Linked DNA regions of Homo sapiens: region 2 is linked to region 1. Evidence: fine-mapped expression QTL. A gene starts in region 1. The other region holds a variant in brackets. All regions are shown on one strand. Distances are from middle to middle. Region 1 holds the start of SERPINB9 (serpin family B member 9). Region 2 has its middle 6.2 kb from the start of MIR4645.

Evidence for each region. PIP is the estimated chance that this variant, and not a neighbour inherited with it, causes the effect. A credible set is the group of variants that fine-mapping cannot tell apart.
Region 2: its variant is the best candidate, but not a certain one, in a credible set for the expression of SERPINB9 in whole blood (INTERVAL, PIP 0.58).

The regions. Positions count from the first base shown.
Region 1 is chr6:2,901,628-2,904,639 of GRCh38, forward strand. It overlaps SERPINB9 (serpin family B member 9), which reads right to left and starts at 1,682. Exons shown (of 7, transcript NM_004155.6): 1 at 1,574-1,682. RefSeq lists an enhancer at 1,146-1,647 and silencers at 1,358-1,407, 1,648-1,727, 1,828-1,877.
Region 2 is chr6:2,858,894-2,861,644 of GRCh38, forward strand. It overlaps the pseudogene SERPINB9P1. Among named protein-coding and RNA genes, the nearest start is that of MIR4645, 6.2 kb to the left of the region's middle. RefSeq lists an enhancer at 1-265. The variant G/A (reference allele first, on the strand shown) is at 1,409.

The DNA.
Region 1 (3,012 bases):
CCCCCAGGCTGCAGTTCCCAGTGCACTTGGAAATGAGACCCTGACTCCTCCAGGTGAGCCTGGGAGACCTCCCTGACTCCTTTCCATCTCCCCCTCCTCCCCCACACCCATCCCCAAGGCCTGCCCTCTACGCCCACATTTCTTCCCACTTCGGATTCTGTGCCTGGTCTAATGCCCAGGCCCCCTCCCGAGCCTCTGGTCTCCCTAGAGCCACTCCCCACTGTCGGGACACCTCATCTGTGCTCCCCAAAACGCCACGCAAAGCGCTGGAGAGCCTTGGACAATGAACACAACCCACTCCCCCAGCCACCCCCACGCCACAGCCACACGGCACCTCAGAAAGCGGTGTCTTAATCCTCTTGTCCTTCCTCCTAAATCTCCCAGGGGCCCTTAGGCCCCTCAAAGGTGGCCGCTCAAAGCCACCTTGTTAAAACGGTGTCTTACCCACCTGCCCCCTCCCTTGATCCAGACTCACTGAGGTCACAGCCTCCACCTCTGGCCATCCTGAACCCCTCCCAAAGTCAACTCTTCACAAACACTGTTGGTCCCCCTTAGAAGGCCCCATGTCCATCACGGCATTAATTCCACTCACCCTCAAACACCGCGGCCCGGAGGCTCTGATTCCCACCCTGGAGGAGGTTCTCTTGACCCCGCCGGCGCGACCCTCCCCAGCACGACCCTTCCTCCCGAAGGTGATTCCTCATCTTGCTGGTGGTCCCCACAGACCGCAGGCTCTGCAGGCGAGCGCTGAGCCTGGCTCTGCAGATTCTCAGGACCCCATTCGTTTAGCTGAATTATTGAAAGAATTAAGATGGATAAGAGTGCTCAGATTTGAAACTCCGAGACTGGTGGCTTTATTTTTTTGTTGTTGTTGGTGGTGGTTTTTTTGTGTTTTTCTTTTTTTTGTTTTGAGACGAAGTCTCACTCTGTCTGCCAGGCTGGAGTGCAGTGGCGCAATCCCAGCTCACTGCAACCTCTGCCTCCCGAGTTGAAGTGATTTTCCTGCCTCAGCACATAGCTGACATTATTACAGGCGTGGGCCACCATGCCCGGCTAATTTCTGTATTTTTAGTAGAGACCGGTTTTCACCACGTTTGCCAGACTGGTCTCGAACTCCTGATCTCCAAGGATCCGACCGCCTTGGCCTCCCAAAGTGCTGGGATTACAGGCGTGAGCCACTGCGCCCGGCCGAGACTGGTGACTGTAAAGGACAGTGAAGAAGCAGGACAGACGTCATCCTGCGGATCCCAGAGCAGAGAAGAGCAGTGAGAACACAGGGCCGGCAGGTGGGGAGGAGGCTGCAGGGGAGGGCTTCGGCCAGGGAAGGGCAGCGAGGAGACATCCGGGAGGGAGGCGTCCGCGGTGGCTGTGGGCCGCCAAGGCGGAGACCGGCTGCCGCTCCCAGGCACCCCCCAGAGACCGTTGCTGACCCCACCGAGAAGGCACCGCCTCCCCGGGGCTCTTGGCTGAGCGACCTCTCCTGTCCTCCGGTCCCATCACTCGGTGGCAGCCGGTGGACCTGAAGCTCGCCACTCCCGTCCCCTACCCCAGCCGTGCGCGGGGACGCCCTCACCTGCCACCTAGTCCAGCGCTGCCGCCGTCTCCGTGCCGCGCTCCGAGCCTGGACGCCGACCCCCGAGGCGCAGGACCCGGCCCTGCTGCTGCGCTCGCCGCGGACTCCCGCTAGGGCCTCTGCAGGCACCGCTTTTATACCGCAGGGTCGGGCGCCTCCCACGCTTTCTGCGTTTAGGCGGAGCCTGGCGGGACCAGCGGGGGCGCCGCGCGTGGTGGCCGAGGTCAGAGCTGGGAGCAGGGTCAGGTCAGGGTCCCCCCAGTCCGCCCCGCCCGGGGCGATGTCCGCCAATGCTCCCGCCAGCCTGAGGCCGGCCAGGTTCCCAAGGCGCGCGCTCGGCCTCACCCACCCCCGGCGCCAGGGCCTCTTCAGGACCGGGTTCAGAACCTGACAGCCCAGAGAAGTAGGTTGGGAGCCTGCGGCGTCCAGGGCCTCCGCGCGAAGAAACAAGGCGTCTGCGGGAAAGGAGACGGAGCCTGGAACCCTGGGCTTTTGTACTTAAGGAAGCGAAGGTCGGGTGACAGCCAAGCTCCGTGTTCCAGTGGGAAGGTCCCATGGGTCTGTGTTCCACGCCTCTTGTCATGAATATGGGGGATTCACTTAGAACCAAAGCATTTGTTCCAGGTCCCACCACTAACTAGTACTAGTCCTGGGCCCAGAACCAGGCGTCCTCACTCCTAGTACCCAAGCCCTTCTCTAGCCACAGGTGTTTGGGCTGCGGTGTGGTGTAAGCAGCCCCATTTTCCCGCAAAGTGATGGGAAGAGACACTGAGTCACACGGGCTCAGGACACTCCTTGTGTCCTCTATCAGGGGGTCCAGAGGCAGGGACTCGGGGGAGTTGATGCAGCAGTTCGTGATGTCATCAGATATCCCCCCACCCCCTTCCATCTCAGGCTGGACTCAATTGGAAGCATTTCATGTTGGCACGGTGACGTCCAGAGGAAGGGAACAGACAAATGGCTCTCTCTGGAGCACGGAGCGTCGCCCAGAAGCCGTGCCCTCCTGTTTCAAATTGACCAGAATTAGAGCTTTCTCCTGAGGGCCTGAATTAGGGAGAAGCAAGGCAGGTGCCTAAGGCACAAAATTTCAGGAGGGCCACACGCATAGGTGCCAACCCTGCATTTGCGCGGCCCTGAGAATCAGAGCCTCCTTCAATTTGACACCCTAGGTGCCTAGCTTGTTTTTAAAAATAAAACCTTTATTAAAAGACAATTCACGGACCATAATATGCATCCTTTTAAAGCATACAATTCAATAGTTCTTGGTATATTGACAAAGCTGTCCAACTCTCACCACTATCTAACTCCAGAAGGTTTTCATCACCCTAAAAGGAACTGTGATACCCATTAGCAATTATTCTCCATTTCCTCCTTCCCACAACCCCTGGCTTCTGGGAGAGGCTCCGACCTCCAGATTTCTTTTCTGGCCCTGCGGATTG
Region 2 (2,751 bases), 43 kb before region 1:
CCAAATATCAGGTTAGGTTCTGGGGAGATGAGAAAGGATTAAGCAGTGTCCCAGCCTCCAAGGAGATCATGTGACTCCACTGATCATAAATGATGGCCCTGGAAAAAGTTCCAACTCCTCTTCAGTATGGCTCCAGCTGAATGGCTCTGTCCCCTGCCCCTTCTCTGTCTGGGCTGGTCCCTCTGGTAACTGTCTTATGGGTCTTCTCCCTCCACACCGTCGCTCATGCAGGCCCTTCAGTGTAGTACAGCCTCACAGATGCTCAGCTCAGCAGCCCTTTGCTTGAGCTTTTGGGTTTAACCTCCATCCTCTTCCTGTTGTCTGTATCTCTGCGTCATCAAACATCTAAATTTAAGTCTCCTATCTGTGTGATCTTAGACAAGTGTCTAGTGTCAAGTGTCTAGTGGACAAAGGTTTCTAAACCTTTGTCCTCCATTCCTCATTTGTGAAAGGAAGGTAATGGCTTCCGCTTTGTCCATGGCTTAGAGTTGTTCTAAAAATCAAATAACATGATAAATAAATTTAAAAAAAAACAAGTAAGATAACAAGGGCTGGTCCAGATGTGGAGGAAGGGAACACCTGCACACTGTTGCTGGGAATTTAAATTAGTACAAGCATTCAGGGAAACAGTATGGAAGTCCCGCAAAAAATTAAAAATAGAATTACCGTATGATCCAGCAATTTCACTACTGGGTATATCTCCAAAGGAAATGAAATCCTTACCTTGAAGTGGTATCTACACTCCCATGTTCATTGGAGCACTATTCACAATGGCCAAGATATGAAAACAAGCCAAGTGTCTGTCCATGAATGAATGGCTACAGAAAGTGTGGTATACATATATCTGGTGGAATATTATCCAATCTTAAAAAAAAATTGTCATTTTCGACATGGATGAACTTAGAAAACATTATGCTAAGTGAAATAAACCAGGCCCAGGCACAGAAAGACAAATACTGAATGATTTCATTGATATCTGGAATCTAAACTAGAACTCATGAAAGCAGAGAGTAGAAAGCGGCTTGCCTGGGGCTGGGGAACACGGGAATGGGGAGACGTTGGTCAAAGTGGGAGGTGACAGCGTGCTGGCAGTTCTCAGAGCCCTCTCTTGCTCTCGGCACCTCCTCTGCCTGGGATCCCACTTTGGTGGCATTTGAGGAGCCCTTCGGCCCCCCCACTGCACTGTGGGAGCCCCTTTCTGGGCTGGCCAAGGCTGGAGCCCACTCCCTCAGCTTGCAGGGAGGTGTGGAGGGAGAGGCACGAGCGGGAACCGGGGCTGCGTGCAGCGCTTGCTGGCCAGCTGGAGTTCCGGGTGGACGTGGGCTTGGCGGGCCGCGCACTCGGAGCAGCCGGCCCTGCTGGCCCCGGGCAATGGGGGACTTAGCACCCGGGCCAGCGGCTGCGGAGG[G/A]TGTACTGGGTCCCGCAGCAGTGCCAGCCCACCGGCGCTGCGCTCGATTTCTCGCCGGGCCTTAGCTGCCTTCCCGCGGGGCAGGGCTCGGGACCTGCAGCCCGCCATGCCTGAGCCTCCCACCCACTCCATGGGCTCCTGTACGGCCCGAGCCTCCCCGACAAGCACCACCCCCTGCTCCACAGCGCCCAGTCCCATCGACCACCCAAGGGCTGAGGAATGCGAGCGCACGGTGCGGGACTGGCAGGCAGCTCCACCTGCACCCCCAGTGTGGGGTCCACTGGGTGAAGCCAACTGGGCTCCTGAGTCTGGTGGGGATGTGGAGAGTCTTTATATCTAGCTCAGGGATTGTAAACACACCAATCAGCACCCTGTGTCTAGCTCAAGGTTTGTGAGTGCACCAATCGACACTCTGCATCTAGCTGCTCTGGTGGGGCCTTGGAGAACCTTTATGTCTAGCTCAGGGATTGTAAATACACCAATCAGCACCCTGTGTTTAGCTCAAGGTTTGTGAATGCACCAATCAACACTCTGTATCTAGCTGCTCTGGTGGGGATGTGGAGAACCTTTATGTCTAGCTCAGGGATTGTAAATACACCAGTCGGCACTCTGTATCTAGCTCAAGGTTTGTAAACACACCAATTAGCACCCTGTGTTTAACTCAAGGTTTGTGAATGCACCAATTGACACTCTGTATCTAGCTGCTCTGGTGGGGCCTTGGAGAACCTGTGTGTCCAAACTCTGTATCTAACTAATCTGATGGGGACGTGGAGAACCTTTGTATCTAGCTCAGGGATTGTAAACGCACCAATCAGCGCCCTGACAAAACAGGCCACTAGGCTCTACCAATCAGCAGGATGTGGGTGGGGCCAGATAAGAGAATGAAAGCAGGCTGCCCGAGCCAGCATTGACAACCTGCTCAGATCTCCTTCCAGACTGTGGCAGCTTTTTCTTCTTCTTCTTCTTCTTCTTCTTTCTCTTTTCTTTTCTTTTCTTTTCTTCCCCCTTCTCCTTCTCTTCTTCTCTCTTTCCTCTCCCTTCCTCCCCCTCCCTTCCTCTTTTCTCTCGCTTTGCAATAAATCTTACTGTTGCTCGTTTTGGGTCTACACTGCTTTTGTGAGCTGTAACAGTCACGGTGAAGATCTGCAACTTCACTCCTAAGCACAGTGAAACCATGAGGCCACCAGGAGTGAATTAACAACTCCAGATGCGTTGCCTTAAGAACTGTAACATTCACTACGAAGGTCTGCAGCTTGCCTCCTGAGCCAGCAAGACCGTGAACCCACCAGAAAAAAAAAACTCCAAATACATCTGAACATCAATAAAGGACAGACTCCAGATGT